Linked DNA regions of Homo sapiens: region 2 is linked to region 1. The links come from fine-mapping of genetic effects on gene expression. Tissue or cell type: whole blood. Region 1 holds a variant in brackets; the other region holds the start of a gene. All regions are shown on one strand. Distances are from middle to middle.

The links. PIP is the estimated chance that this variant, and not a neighbour inherited with it, causes the effect.
Region 2: ZNF496 starts here. The variant in region 1 is fine-mapped to the expression of ZNF496 in whole blood (TOPMed, PIP 0.99).

What each region holds. Positions count from the first base shown.
Region 1 is chr1:247,355,677-247,363,781 of GRCh38, reverse strand. All of the region lies in intron 1 of ZNF496-DT (ZNF496 divergent transcript), which reads right to left. Among named protein-coding and RNA genes, the nearest start is that of ZNF496-DT, 28 kb to the right of the region's middle. RefSeq lists enhancers at 604-1,148, 5,753-6,052. The variant G/C (reference allele first, on the strand shown) is at 3,300.
Region 2 is chr1:247,327,703-247,335,807 of GRCh38, reverse strand. It overlaps ZNF496 (zinc finger protein 496), which reads left to right and starts at 3,941. Exons shown (of 10, transcript NM_032752.3): 1 at 3,941-4,018; 2 at 4,161-4,376; 3 at 5,727-5,842; 4 at 6,193-6,619; 5 at 6,942-7,125. The coding sequence starts at 6,230. ZNF496-DT (ZNF496 divergent transcript) reads right to left here and starts at 3,754. Exons shown (of 3, transcript NR_168399.1): 1 at 2,562-3,754. RefSeq lists silencers at 1,967-2,261, 3,374-3,853, 3,984-4,093, 4,664-4,903 and enhancers at 3,767-4,061, 6,448-6,950.

The DNA of each region.
Region 1 (8,105 bases):
TCTTAAGTGAACTAACGCAGAAACAGAAAATCAAATACTGCATGTTCTCACATTTTTTTTCTTTTTTTTGAGACGGAGTTTCACTCTTGTTACCCAGGCTGGAGTACAATGGTGTGATCTCGGCTCACTGCAACCTCGGCCTCCCAGGTTCAAGTGATTCTCCTGCCTCAGCCTCCCAACTAGCTGGGACTACAGGCATGCGCCACTACGCCTGGCTAGTTTTGTATTTTTAGTAGAGACAAGGTTTCTCCATGTTGGTCAGGCTGGTCTTGAACTCCCAATCTCAGGTGATCCGCCTGCCTTTGCCTCCCAAAGTGCTGGGATTACAGGCGTGAGCCACCGCACCCGGCCACATTCTCACTTATAAGCGGAAGCTAAACGTTGGATACACATGGACATAAAGATGGAAACAATAGTCACTGGGACCTGCTAGAGCAGGGAGAGTAGGAAAGTAGGAGAGTGAGAGAGGGGAGAGGAGAAGGGGAGAGTGAGAGAGGGGGAGAGGAGAAGGGGAGAGAGAGAGAGGGGGAGAGGAGAAGGGGAGAGTGAGAGAGGGGAGAGGAGAAGGGGAGAGTGAGAGAGGGGAGAGGAGAAGGGGAGAGTGAGAGAGGGGGAGAGGAGAAGGGGAGAGAGAGAGAGGGGGAGAGGAGAAGGGGAGAGGTGGAGGGAGAGGGGGACAAGAGTTGAAAAAGTACCTATCGGGTACTATCCTCACTACCTGGGTGAAAGGATGCTTTGCACCCCAAACCTCAGCATCATGCAATATACCCATGTAACAAATCCACACATGTATCCCCTGAATCTAAAATAAAAGTTGAAATTTTGAAAAAACATAATAAATAAGTTAAAAAGTTATATTTTAAAAGAAAACTTTTTAGAGAGCTCTTGTCTCTTTTTTTTTTTTTTTTGAGACAAGGTCTCACTCTGTCGCCCAGGCTGGACTGCAGTGGCGCAATCTCTGCTCACTGCAACTTCAGCCTCCCGGGTTCAAGCAATTCTCCTGCCTCAGCCTCCCCAGTGGCTGAGATTACAGGTGCGCACCACTATGCCCAGGTAATTTTTTTTTTTTTTTTTTTGTATTTTTAGTGGAGACAGGGTTTCACCATCTTGGCTAGCTGGCCTCGAACTGCTGACCTCAGGTGATCCATCTGCCTCAGCCTCCCAAAGTGCTGGGATTACAGATGTGAGCCACCGCGCCCGGCCACTAAGAGCTCTTGTCTTAAACAGCTTTCTTATTGGTACCTATGAAAAGACACAAAAGGAATATATAGCCTTAGAAACTCCCTTAGCAGGATTTCTTTTTTTAAGGCAGAAATCAGATTTACAACTAAGTTATAAATCCTTTGTGTAGCTGGATTCACTGATTTATGCCTGTAATCCCAACACTTCGGGAGGTCAAGGAAGGCTTGCTTGAGCCTAGGAGTTTGAGAACAGACTGGGCAACATAGGGAGATCCCATCTCTACAAAATAAATAAACAAATAAATGAGTCAGGCATCGTGACACACGCCTGTGGTCCCAGCTACTCAGCCAGGGGTAGGCAGGAGGACTGCTTGAGCCTAGGAGGTTGAGGCTGCAGTAAACCATGAGCACACCACACTGCACGCCAGCCTGGGTGACAGAACGAGACTTTGTCTCAAACAAATATATATATATGATATAAAAAATATATATTTCTAACATGTATATGTTATATATGTATAATATATATCACATATAATATATATGTCACATATATAATATATATATCACATATATAATATATATGTCACATATATAATATATATGTCACATATATATATATATATATATATATATATATATATATATATATATATAGTGCGCCCAAGCTGCCTGTTTTGGATCCCCCTGGGATTTACAAAGAAGACGGGCCACCCTAATCTAGGGCCTGGGTTCCATGCTTTCACCACCACAGCCTGGATTTGATTCCCAGTCAGGAAACCAGACTCTTGGAAATGCAAATCTTTTAACTCAGGACAAAACAAATAGAAACATTTGTAAAAAGTTAGTTTGGTATTTGCATAACTCTGACCTTTTGGGGTACCCTTTCACTTTGCAATCCTGTCTATTCCCACAGACAGCTTTTGACTTCCCATCTTACAAACTGCCATGCAATCTTCCGTCTGTGGGAGATACGGGTTGTCAGGCCTTTGTGTGCAGTCAGCCAGCTGAGAGGCTGAAACCCTAGATAATATGGCCAGACAGTAGCCCCATTTGCAGCTACTAAAATTCTCCTTTATTTGAGCTGCCTGGAGTGGTCTGGATCTGAGCAGGGTTGCAACTTTTGCCTCCTCTCTGGAGACCTTGGTGAAAGCCGTGAAAGGCTTCTTGGTTCTGGTCTCCTTGGTGCTTATTTCACTTGGCGTTGAGTCATTTGTTCAGGTATACCTTTGATAGAAAACTGGTTTGTATTTAGAGTGTGATAGCAACTTTTTTCTTTTGTCTCGCTTCCTCCCGTGGGCAGAAGAGACGTGTGTCTCCCACCACTGCTGGGAAGCTGAAGAGAGGCAGGGCTCCTCCCATGAGCAGAGCGGGTGGGAGCGCTCCACAGCCGAAATTCTTTCCACTCCAGTGTTAGGCCACGTGCTCATGAAACAGAAAGCTTGCTGCTTGTGTATTTTCAACACACCCTTCTGCTTTTTCTTTTTTCTTTTAGTTTTTGGGGGATTTTTCCCTGGCAGATATATAGAGCAATGCTTTTTCTCTTTGGATCCTGTTCCTACCCTGGGAATTCTTTTCAGTCAACTGAAATTTTGTTAAAAAGCAATTTTATGTTCCTTCCATCTGTTCACTTTTTTGTTGTTGTTGTTGTCGGCATGATTTTTACTGAGAAAAATGTAAAACATCCTTGGCCTTTTTGGGAAGTTTAAAATCTTCCCAAATTGAGCCCTCTAAGAATTGTTTTCCCATTTACTGTTGGCCCTTCTTCCTTTCTGCCACCTTCAATAACACACGAAGAAATCAAGAGGGAACTTCTAGCAGTCCTGAGACCCCTTGAGAAACCAGAAAAAGGTGCCATACACCCTCCTTTTGGGGGTCTTTTGTCTTCCTCACGGAGCCCCAAGGGTCATGGGCAGGTTACTCTCAAGTCTAAAGCGCCGCAGTCTTTTGCATTGAGTTCCCTGATATTTTCATTTTTTTGAGACACAGTCTGTCTCTGTCACCTAGGCAGGGGTGCAGTGGTGCATTTGTGAGAAACACACTCACCCATCCAAACCCAAAGAATGGACTTAGAGGCACAAAGAACAGCGAAAGGGAGACTTTTCATAACGGTCTTGC[G/C]AGATCGGGTGTCTGGTGAGCAGGCACAACCAGGGCGGTCACAACGGGTAATTTATGTCCTAGCACACAAGTCCCTCCCCCAGTTCCTCACTGGTTGAGTACTGTGGGGTTACAATCTTCCCGGACATCGCCTAACTTTCATTATCCCCCTTACAAAGTTATACCCCGTCCTCTTCCCCACTTAAGTTTTGATTTCCCCATAACAAAACTTTCTTCCCTTTTATGAGCTGACCACACCTCTACATTCTGTCCACTTACTGTGACCTTCTGGGTGCATGAGCCATGTGGTTTCTTACATTTGCAGGCTGGCTGCCAGTGCTTAGACTTATCATGCCTTGCAAATGGACCATTTAAAAGGTTTTCTCACCAATTCCCTCCTCTTTTCTATTTACTTATTTTGTTCTCATTTTCTTTTAAACCCTTTTGGGCCGTGAATCGCTCCAGAAGTTGTTTACTTTCTTCCTCATAGGAGAGTGAGTTTAATTTGCTTTCTAATAGTGGCAGGTTATTTTGCTGGTAAGTCATGGGCATTTGTTTATTAATAGCTGTTTTAATTAATTTCTGTGCTAGTCCCCTCACACAAGGGATAATACAACATTCCACTGCTATTAAGAATCCTGCCACAATTATGAGAGATATAAGGATTGAAGCTACCATTCCTTTCCATTTTCCAAATCAGCCTTCTAGCCAACCCGTAAATGGGTCATTAATTCCGAGCATTTCTTCCAGTTCGTTGGCTAGAGTTGTTAGTCCTTGTAAAGCTTTTGTGATGGTCCCATTTGGGGCAGTATTGCTGGGAATGAAAGTACAAAATTTCCCGCCCAGCATAACACACACGCTCCCTTTTTCTCTAGTATCATGTCTAGCGCAAGTCTGTTTTCCCAGGCCATTTAGCTGGTGGCATCTAACTGGCTAGCCACCCTTTGAGGGCATCCCAAGTATAATTGATGAATTCCTGTTGATTATAATAGATGGAGTTAATTTAATTCGCATTCTTCTTAATAGTTGACCAGCAGAAGTGTCCTGACTTTAAACCCAGCACCTACTGCGTTTCAGGCCTTCAATTTATTAGGCAACCCTACCCCCACCAGGGTCTCCTATTGAGTCAACATACACATTGGGATTAAAAGAATTTGTGAAATCTCTCTGGTTTCAGTGGCCATGTGTATTTTGGGGTATCTTATGGGATGCCAGGGTGAAGGGAATGGCCAATGAGACTAAAGCACAAGTCCTGGTCCCATTGGACAGTAACAGGTTACGTAGGTTCCTTTTCCCATAATACTACCAGACATCAGCCCGGGGTGTATGGAGAGCTGAGTAATTGCCATTGCTCAACTCACCAGTGACGTTTAGGATGTGGGTACAAGTTGAGAGTTCTCCCATAGGCTTATGGAACTCTGCCCCCTGTCTAGAGAGGCAAGAGGAGTAGTTCATGTTCTCTGCAGAGAACGAGGGTATTGCTCTGGGATCTGAGCTCCGCAATGCAGGAAACAGCAATGAAAGACTCTTACAAGTCTTACTTCTCCTTACTTATATCATTGTGCTGGTATGCAGCCAACATGCAACACATTCCTCTAGAATCACTATTCCATCCCAGGGGAAACGGAACCACCTGCGCCTGAGGTGGTCCTGCAGCACACGCGTAGCAGTTACTTTTGCTGAGGGCTTGTACCGAAAATATGACCCATTTGACCCAGGCATTCACATCCCTATACCCTGTCTCAATTTCTAAGGTTTGCCTTAAATCCTTTACCTCAATTATTGTTACCATTTTAGGGTTAATATTTGGTAGACTAAAGTGTTTATTAGGGTCTGGGGTTGGAGTAGTTCCAGGCAAATGGGAGGTTGAGTTCTTGATTAGCCTGAGATCAAATCGACCTGGGGGTCTTTCCTTGTGATGTCTTCTCCTAACCCATATACCTGAGATGCTACTTTTGGTTCTTGGTCTAGAAAGGCTGAATTGTCAAGGGTGATGAGTATAGGATGGCATTCTAAATTCTGGCAGTTATTTGGTGGGGAGCGCTTGGACAGAGGTAGTTTATGCTTCAAGGGTTTCCAGTTTGGAGTTACCCACACCATGTTTACTGTCCAACCCTGAAATTGGGTAGCGCACCATACATCCTCCCAGCTGGGGAAGGGTGATGCCCTACTGCAACCTGCATCTGGTTCAAGGCAAAGAGATTTATCTGCCTGCGAGAGCTGTCTCTGATTTTCTAAATTCCCACAAGGTAAAACCTGACAGGCATCAAATCTTATAGTTTGGGGTGCTACCGTCTTAATCATATTAATCACCAACCTGATTGAGCAGTGGGGAGTCCCCTGCCAGTTTCCATTTTGACCTTCTGCTCTTTGTATACTAACCCATCCCAGCCTTATTACCTTTCAGAAATGCAGCCAGCCCACGCTTTCTTTCTAAATTTTTCTCAGAGTTAACTTTAAGTGTTCGTCAGGTGACCCATGCACTTCCCACTGTTCTTTCTCCTTCCCTTTCCAGGTCTCTTTTACCGGCCTCTTGATTCCAGTGTAGTGAGTCCACCCCCATTCAGCTGTTCGCAGGGCTGTCTCAGGGGCAGAGGCACTTGACAGGGACCTTCCCAGCTTGGGTGGAGCTTGTCTTCTTTCCAAATCTTAGTCAGCACCAAGTTGCCAGGCTGGAAGTAGTGAACCATGAACTCAAGAGGCAGAGCTTGCGTCAGAAGACCTTTTAACCTGAGGGATGACAGGGTGGAAGATATGGCCAGTATATCATTTCTTAAGAATTGGTTTTTGGTTTCCATAGTGGGAGGATCTGTAGCCCTGCCCAAATATGGGAGTCCATATAATAACTTGTAGGGGACAATCCCAAGTCTTTTCTGGGGACTGTCCGAATCCTAATCCTAAAGCCATGGGAGATATTTGGTCCAAGGCACTTTAGTTTCTAAGTTTAGTTTGGTGAGATGCTTTTTGAGAGTTTGGTTTATTCTTTTTACCTTTCCACAGGATGCCAAGGGGTGGGATAATCCCATCAAATTTGTAAACCTTCCATAATTCCCCTTAACACTCTTGAAATAGCTTCCTTTCTAATCTCGTGCGGTTCAAAGAAATCACTTCTCTTTTAACAAAGGGTAGCCTGAAAGTTCAGGCTATAAACTACAGATAAACAACTTAAGCATAGAAGGAGGCGGGGGATGTCTCCTGGGTAAACACCAAACTTCACACTCCCACAGTCGGGCCCAGTATAAACAGTGGGCCTTAATAAGCACATTCCTTTCCCTTTAGGCACATTAAGATAGGGAAGCTAAAGCTGACTGGGATGGGGGGGCGGTGGGAGATGCCTGCAGCTGCAAAAAGATGGCTGGGAATAGACACAGAATCTCTCCCTCCCAGATAAGCAACACAAAGAATTAGAGTATTGGCCAGGCACAGGCTCAAGCGTGTAATCCCAGTACTTTGGGAGGCTGAGGCGGGTGGATTACCTGAGGTCAGGAGTTCCAGACCAGCCTGGCCAATGTGGTGAAAGCCCATCTCTACTAAAACTACAAAAAGAAATTTGCTGGGTGTGGTGGCACGCACCCAGCTACTCAGGAGGCTGAGGCAGAAGAATTGCTTGAACCCGGGAGGTGGAGGGTGCAGTGAGCTGAGATCATGCCATTGCACTCCAGCCTGGATGACAAGAGTGAAACTCCATCTCAAAAAAAAAAGTATTATATGGTGACATGCAGGGTTCTAACAGTCCATTTTTAATTAATCCCTCTATTACTGGTTGGAGATCTTTTCTCCCTTCAACAGAAATGGGATATTGTTTTCTGCAAACTCCTCCTGGTTGTTTTAGTCCAATCTGTAAGGCTGTGATTCTTAAGTGTCCCCGCTTGCCTTTCCCAAACCACAAAACGGGACTAATTTTTCTTCCCTCCTCCTCTGTTAGGAGGCCCATCCTTACTTTCATTTGTCCTTTCTGTGTATCCCTAATCCTAAACTGAATCTCACAATCAGGTCTCTACCCACTAGGTTAGTTCCTGCTTCAGGAATATATAAGAGTGACCCCTCAATGTGTTCTGGTCCCAGTCTAATTAACATTGTCTTGAATATCAGAACCTGTAATCCCTCCCCTTTTACGCCTAATACTTTCAGTTTTTCCTTAGAGAGTTCTGTACCCTTTGGTTTGTGGATTAGGGAGGAGTGAGCTGCCCCAGTGTCAACCAAAAATGTCACTTCTTCTCCCTAAGGTCCCGCCTTCCAATTTATCAAGGGTTCTTGGTGGGACCTACTCAGAAGGAAGCCCTGACCCCCATTGTATTCATCAACGGTCATGAGGGGGATCATCTCTTCTTCTTTTTTCCATTGAGGACATTCTCTCTTAAGATGCCCTGGCTTTCCACACTTGTAACATCTAGCCACTCATAGTCTTAGGAGGTTTCCCCTGCATTTCCTTTCTTTCTCTGTGTCGAAATCTATCATTCCCTTGTCTCATTTGAGGGGGATCTTGAGCTAATCTTTTTTTGGCTACCTCTTCCACAGTGGAAATCATGATGTTCCCTTTCTGTTTCTGCTTCTCTTCCCCTCTTTTCACAAAGACCTTCTGAGCTTCACTCAGTAATTCCTCAATCGGTTTCTCATTCCATCCATCAATCTTTTGTAATTTTTTTTTTTGTAATGTCAAGCCAGCTTTTAGTAACAAAGTTAATCTGCAACAGGCCTTGCCCTACTGGGTCCTCCGGATCTAATCTGGAGTATTTTCTCATCTCTGAGCCTCTGCAGGAATGTGAAGGGAGTTTTCTCTTTTTCTTGTTGAATCTCAAATGCCTTTGAGACATTTTGTGTCCTAGG
Region 2 (8,105 bases), 28 kb after region 1:
CATGCCTCAGGTCCAGAGGCAGCCTTCCCTGCCCTCCGGCTCCCCGTGGGCCCTGGGTGCCAGCCCTCCCTCCTCCAGGCGATGCACTGCAATTTCTCCCATCTTTAAGATGAGACCGTTTTTCTCCACAGGGCTGTGTCCACTCTCATCTCCCTTCTCTTCCAGAAAGTGCCCTAGCCCAGGAGCTCCACTGTCTGCTTTGCTCAGGGGCCTCTCTACCAGATTCAATGGGCAGTGTTCTTTCCTCATCGGATTTGATCTTGGCGCAGGATTTATCCCCCTGACCTCTTTCTCTCCTTGAAACACAGGTGCTCACTTGGATTCCAGGGCTCCACACCTGCAATTTTCCTTTTATCTCAAGGCGGCAGCAGCTCTCCCTACCCCCTTCTCTTGCCCTCGTCCTCCCTCACTTTCCTCCTCCTACTTCCCCTTCTCTCCCTTCTCCTCCACTAACCCCTTGGGCTCCCACGGTCCAGGGCTGGCATTTCGCAGGGTCTGCCCTCCCTGGGGCTGCTTCTCAAAACACACTCAACCCTCTCAAGCCCCAGCTCCTGCTACATACGGTGACTCCAGATTTCCACCTCCAGCCACAGCTTTCTATCCCAGAGGGTCATCCCCACTTGTCTCCTGGGCATCTGAAAACCAGCAAGTCCCAAATCCACCAATTCAACCCCAAACCCAACCCCTTCCTGGAAACCTGCTTCCTTGCATCTGCCATCTCTAGAAGGCCTGTTCAGTCACCCAGTTTCAGCCCCAGTCACAGCCGTTCCTCACTCCTCTAACACAGGCAGCATGCCTTCAACACAGAGCCTGGATTGGGCCTACTGTTCACCAGCTGTGCCTCCACCAGTCAACTCCAGGAACCGAGCATCTCCTGCCGGGATCTCTACAACGATTCCTAACAGAGACTCTGCTTCATCTGTTCTGCACAGTGATCTTGATAAAATCAAGATTCCGTTAGGCCACACTCCTACTTGAAACCCTCTAATGACTATAACATCTGGTGACCTGGTTCCAGCCTCACCATTCTCTCACTATTCCTCTGCCCAGCTGAGCAAGCACACGCTGTTTCCTCTGCTGGAATACTCTTCCCACACACCTCTGCTCAGGAGCCCCCCACCTGCTCTCCACTCAAATGTCACCTCCTGACAGAGGCCCTACCTGAACATCCCCAGCACACTCTTCCCCACCATGTTGTATTTCTTTCATGACACCGATCACCAATGGCGTTATATTGCAGAATCGCTGATTTATTATTTGATTCCCCTCCCAACTCCTTGGATCATTCTTCTATGGTCTCCCCATGGATCGAATAATCATTGGCACATAGCAAACATTTCATAAAAACAGATACAATTGGCAACATTATATTCATACAAACCTAATACACGCACACACTGGGCATGATGATGGTGCAGTCCTTGAGCAGGGTTTACAGGCAGGATCCTCTTCCCGATGCTTCACCCGTGGTATCTGATACAACCCCACTTCATTCAGAGGCGAACACCTTCCCCACGGGCTCCTGTGCCCCCACCCAGCTCTATGCCATCCCTCTCCTCTCACTCACCAGCCCACCTTGCTTCGCACCGCTCCCCCTTAGGGCCTTTGCTGTCAAGGTGGTCTCCATGTGTCAAACAGGGACTCTGACCAACTACTTCATCTCAAATACCACCTTCACAGTAAGGCCTGCCTGCCCTCCTCTTTAATACCATGACTGTTACCAGCCCCTCCCCAGCACTCCTGACTTCCTGATGCCTCTCCACTTTCCTTTTTTTCTGTAGCACAGATCAAAGAGAGCAGGTCATGTTACTGATTTTGCTTCCTCCAATAGCCAGTTGTGTTCACAGATGTACCTGAGCACCTGGAAGGCTGGCTGCCTAGCACTCATGAGTGTACAGTAGGTACTCGGTATAGGTTTGCTGAATGACTGAATCTTTGATCCTGCACAACCATCCAATGAGGTAGACAGCATCATCCCTGTTTTCTGGATGAGGAAGTTGAGGTACAGAAAGGTTATGTAGGCCTGAGGTCACCTGGCTAGGAATTCATAGGGCAGGATTTAATCCGGGTGCCTGAGTCCAGAACCTTGACTCTGAAGCCCTGTTTTGAGCTAAATGCAGCAGCAGCATAAACAGCCCGTTTTGTGCCTCAAAAGGTGAACAGTGGGAGGCACAGCTGGGCAGGGACGTGTCAGGTCAGGGGAAGAAACTGAATTGGGTAGTGGGGATTAATTGGATGCTGTCTGCCAGCAATTTCTGCCTCCTGCATTTTATCTGCTTTAGGGTTGCAAGGGGCAGAGCTATGAACACGGATGCCCACTCAACAGCCAGTTCCTGGGCCAATCAAAGGGTTGGGAGCTGTAGCACCAGAGCTCTGGAACCCCACAGACTAGGATGTTTGCTAGAGCACCTAAGCCCTACCAGCCTTTGATGACCCCTCGGTTCCTCCCAATTCCTCTCCTCCATGTCACGGTTCCTGGCTGGTGTTCCTGAGAGTGGGCTGTACATGAGTTCTGTAAATGCCAGTCCAGTTACGTCAAAGGGGGTGGCTCTCACTTGTACCTGTAGGCTCCAGCTAAGATCTGCGTGGCCCTGCCCGGCATCTGGCTGTCATCCGGGAAACAATCACTGTTCACAAACAAGGGCTTCACTCCTTCGCTCGCTCCATCTCCTGCTAAAGTCAGAATGTGAACACTGACAAACAGCGGCTCCCAGTAACTCTGCTAGTCAGAAGTGATTATTCCAGCAGTTCAGAGGAGGAAGTGGCGGTGCCCAGGGCCACGGGATTAGAAGAGCAACGGAGCTAAAGGATCCCGTGCCTCAGTCCAACCACCTTGTTCCCACTTACTCAGCCGGGCCACTTTCTTTGGAGAAACTGATTTCCTTCTGCTTGCCCTTGAAAGGGGATCCGAAGGAAATCGGAGCTACCGGCAGTAGCTACCCTCCGGAAGACGGAGAATCTTCTCCACCTTCTCCTCTGCGTAGGAGAATCCAATTTCGGTGCAGAGCAGATGGCGAAGGGGCCATGGGAATCAGACCTGCTCAGGGACCGGGTTCGCACTTTCTCTCAAGCTCTGGAGCCTGAAAAATGAGCATTCCCCGGGGACGACCCATGTAAGAATTTGGGCTATATTCAGCATAGTGCAGCGGCCAGCAGCCCTGTCTCGGGGTGGGGTCCGGAGGCCCCCATTTCTGCTTGCCCCTCACTGCCACATAACCTTGGGTCAGAGTCCCTCATCCTCTCCCTCCGCCACTGTGCACAGCTGCAACCGTGTTCACTTCAGCGAGCAACGAGCCCCGTGACCCCCACTCAGGGTCAGGACTCACCGCAGCCCCTCTGCGCAAGCCCCGAGGCTCTGCGTGGCCTCCGGATGCGCGGCCTTTCCTAACCCGGGGACTCCGCACGTGGGCGCCAGGCCCGGAAGGCGCGGATGTGAGCGCTACCTTCGGCGTCCCGCAGCGGCAGGAGGGGCTGGGCGGCCCGGGCTTCGGCTGGCGGCGGGGGGGGGGTCGCAGGGGAGTCTGAAATGAGGCGGCCGACGGCGCGCGGGGCCTCCTCTCTCCGCTCCATCCCGCACCCCCAATTCCAGCTTCCATCCCCAGCCGCGACTCCCGGTCGGCCGTTCCGGGCGTCCACTGGCCGCGTGTCCTGGGGGCGCCAGAGAAGGAGAACAGCGGAGAAAAGAGCCCCGGGCCGACCTTCCGGACCGGCGGGCCCGCGGGGAAGCCCGGGCGCGGCGACGTGGCTGACCCACAAAGCCCCCGGCCCGGCGGCCAGGCCCAGGCGCGCGCGGAGCGGGGCGGGCCGGGGGTGTCGGATGTCACCCCCAGCGCACACCTCGGCCGGGGGGCGGGGGAGCGAACCACTGAGATGCGGAGACCTCCCCAGTCCTAGAGCGGAGCAGGAAGTGTCCCAGGGGAGGGAGCCGGAGGGCTCCGGCCTTTCCTTTCCTCGGCGTCCGGCGGGCTCCCGCGGCGGCCAGGCCTGCGCCGCCCGCCAACAGGGACGCGCCGCGGCGGTGAGTGCACCCCGGCTCCCGCGGCCGGCCCCGCCCCGCCCTCCTCGGCCCGCGCCCGGCCTCCGCGGCGCCGCCTCCCAGCCCAGAGCCCAGCGCTCAGGAAGGTGCGGGCGGGGGAGAAAGCAACACCATTGTTTTTCAGGCGCCTCCATTTGCCCCCGAGCCGAGCCGTGGCTTTCCGGATGATCGGGAGACGCGGTCTGGACGGGCCGGGAAAGGAGCCGGGCGCCTGCGGAGACCCCGCCTCAGCGAGTACGCCCGGCCGGGCGGGCTGGGAGGATGAGGACGGCTGCCCTGGACTTCCGCCGCCACAGGAGGGTTTTCGGCCGGACGCCGGGAGGGAGCTCCAGGCTGTGAGGTGAGGAGCCCGGAGCCGGCGAGACGGGAGACGCGCGTGTGAGGGAGACCGAGGGCGCGGAGGGCGGGCTCCCCCTTCCCTGGCCCACAGCGACCTTCTCCTTCCCTTTCTGCCGATCCAGCTCGGTCCCTCCTCCGCGAAAGGCTGGGAGCTCGCTCCGCCCCTGCGGGGCCCTCCTCCGCCTCACTCACGTTAGTTCATTCATCAGGCATCTCCTCCGAGCCTCCGACGCGCCAGGTGCCGCCGTGACAAAGACGGACGCGGCCGTCTGGTTGGAGACGATCCGAGTGGCAGCCCGGGTGGGCGCCGGTGCTCGGGGGGGCGGGCCTGAGTAGTCCTGGGCGCTGCAGGTGTGTGATGGGCGCCGCAGGGGGCCGCCGAGCAGGGCGGGCGGGGCCCACCCCGGGCTCCAGATGCCGGAGCCGCCCTGGAAGCGATCCGGTGGTGGGGAGCGCTGTAATGCGTCCAGCCCGACGCCGCCACGGCCCCCATATGGGTTTCTGTGTATGTTGTTACTTTGGAAAGCAAAGAGATTCAGAGCAGTGGGTGTTTCTGGAACCACTCAGTTGTTCCGTAGCTTTTCTGGCATCACTTGTCTTTCTGTGAAATGGGAGTGAGGCCCGAGTCCCCCTTCCCACCTTGTGAGCTGTTGGAGGTTAAGACGCGGCCACGCTGGACAACCTCGTGCAGATGGGGGAGTGGCAGGCACTGCCGGTCCTAAGGATCACAGAGGCCTGATGGCAGAGAAGGGGACTGTGAGTGTCCCCATGTGCCCTTTCACGGGCCCAGCGTTCTAAAGTGGGAATCATAAACACCAGGTATACTGGTTGCTGGTCTCTTGCCACCCTAGTTGTGGCAAAAGTGTCGGCTAGTTGTCTGCACACCAGCGGGGAGGTGTAGGGACCCCTGAGTCCCACCTTGGGGGTGTGGCAGCTGCAGTGTCCAGGGGTTCTTTGAGGGCTGAGCTGTGCAGTGACGGACCCACTTTTCTGTCCTGGCCGAGGAAGGGCTTTGGCGAGTGTGCAGTTGCCTTCAATGTGGTTTGAAGAGGGCAAGGATAGAGAATAGGGTGGAGGCGAGGTTGAAGGTCAGGGCAGAATTGGCAGAAGGCTCATAGGAAACCACTGATACTTCTAGATGCAGTGTTATTTGTCCCTGGTAGACTGCATGTAGCTGTCTCATGTGATGTTTTCCCTTGCCTCCCATTGCAGACTCTGCTGGGCAAAGCTGATTCTGGCTGGGTTGTCCATCCAGCACGCAGCACCATCAGCCCTCTGCCACCAGAAGGGTGGATTTTCCATTCCTGGATGTGCTTGAAGGCTCATCCGATGCATGTCTTTGTCATTCCAGCTCCATTTGTAAAGGTCTTAATAACAAGAACAGTGACTTCGGCTCCGGAGCTTCAAGATAGTGGCCTGCTTGGCCTGCCCATCTCGGATCTCTCCAGGAGGACCCAGCCACCCAAGGTACCAGAGCGTCTTGATTACATCTGCATGTGGCGCTGTTGGTTTCCTGGGATGCTCAAAACAGCAGTGTCACGTTGAAATGCCACCACTTTCTCCCAGATTTCCTGTCTTGTTCATCCAGTCACCCACTTAACGGGAATCCACACGTAATGGTACTGATGGGGGGAGGGCATCTTTCTGTCTGTTTCATCCTGTGTGTAAAGACCAGCCACACCAACACTCCCTACCTTTCCCAGGGCTTCTCCAAAGGGCTGGTCTCTGAGGGCATTGACAGTTTCCTTGTCACTGTCCCCCAGAAATGACCACAGGAGACCAGAACACTGAAGCCAGTGATTTCTGTTTGGAAATAGGGTCGTCTTCTGCTGCTGACCCCCATCAAATCCCATCATGCCCACAGCCCTGTGCCCCCGAGTCTTGGCTCCGAAGGAAAGTGAGGAGCCCAGGAAAATGAGGAGCCCACCTGGAGAGAACCCTAGCCCCCAGGGGGAGCTTCCCAGCCCCGAGTCCTCTCGGCGTCTCTTCCGCCGTTTCCGCTACCAGGAGGCGGCGGGCCCCCGGGAGGCCCTGCAGCGCCTCTGGGACCTGTGCGGGGGCTGGCTGCGGCCTGAGAGGCACACCAAGGAGCAGATTCTGGAGCTGCTGGTGCTGGAGCAGTTCCTGGCCATCCTGCCCCGGGAGATCCAGAGCTGGGTGCGGGCGCAGGAGCCTGAGAGCGGAGAGCAGGCTGTGGCCGCGGTGGAGGCACTGGAACGGGAGCCCGGGAGACCCTGGCAGTGGGTGAGTAGAAGAGGTGGGGCTGGGACGGGTAGAGATCTGGTACTTAGACACTTTGGCTGGGCCATGCATGTGCTGGCTGGGGAATGAGGAGTTCCATCGAGAGCCATTTACTTTGGTTAGGTCCAGACTAGAGTTTCCTAAGAAAGCCAGTTTTACTCCCTGAAGGCTCTAATTTGGGCATGATAGTGTCGTGCCCCTTTACAGCCCAGTCCAAGGCCTAAGTTGAGCCTTTGATGGTCAGCTGTGGAGTGGATGGTCACCAGGCCCAGGGAGAGATGGGACCTCTTCCCCTAGCCCTGAAAAGCTGTCTCTGGGATTGCAGCTCAAGCACTGTGAAGACCCTGTGGTGATTGATGATGGGGACAGCCCTCTGGACCAGGAGCAGGAGCAGCTGCCGGTAGAGCCCCACAGCGACCTTGCAAAGAACCAGGATGCCCAGCCCATAACCCTGGCACAGTGCCTGGGGCTCCCAAGCAGACCACCAAGCCAGCTCAGCGGGGACCCAGGTATGCAGCCCAGGGGAGTGTAGCAGGGGTGATCTGGGGAAGTGCACACCCCATACTGTGCACTGGGTGTGGTTTTTGTTAAGCTGATGGCTTTTACATCAGCAGTGTTCTCGTGTCCCCGAGGTGCTGTGAGCTGTTGTCAGGGTCTGAGTCCCTTCCTAGAGCAATTAAATGAGAACCTCATCAGGATGTTTGTCCTCTTCATGGTTCTAGAGCCTCTCAGAGCTAACGCTTCTGTAGGTGGGTGTCACTGAGGTGGTGCCCTCTCATCTCTTCGAGGGTGCATCTCTGCAGGATTTGTCAGTTTGATGACAGCTGGGGACTGCCAGTGTACAGCTGGGGCCTGCTGCATGACTGGAGCATGGCCATTTCTTGTCTCTTGGAACCTCTGTTTCCTTGGCTAAACAACTCCTGTTTACAGGAGTATTGTGATGCTGCGAAGAGATGTAGAAATACTTAGGAGGACACAGGGTGGTGTCTAGTGTGTGGGGCCAGAACATCAGCTACACATAGTTTGAGTATGTATATGAAGTACATGGTAGCTACAGGAAAGTAGTTTTTTCATCAGATAAACTTAGATTTGAATCTTCTGGTTATGACCTGAGGCATGTTTCTAAACTCTGAAAGCCTCAGTTTCTTCCTCTGTCCAGCAGAGATAGTAATTACCTTTTTTGGGGTTTTTGGACAATTAAATGAGATACAACCTACAAAAGGTTGAACACAAGGCCTGAGGTGCCCAAAACTTTAAGTACATATCATGGGAAACCAGCGCCCTTGGGTTGAAGGAAGTCTGGCCCGTGGGTTCCTCTGGGTGGACTTGCCACGGTGCTTTATATGTACAGTGGAAAGAGAGTGTCTGGGGGGCCAGGGGGGCTTTCTTATGACTCTGGGTGGACTTGCCATAGTGCTCTATAGGTACAATGGAAAGAGAGTGTCTGGGGGGCCAGGGGAGACTTTCTTATGACTTGCAGAAGTTGTGT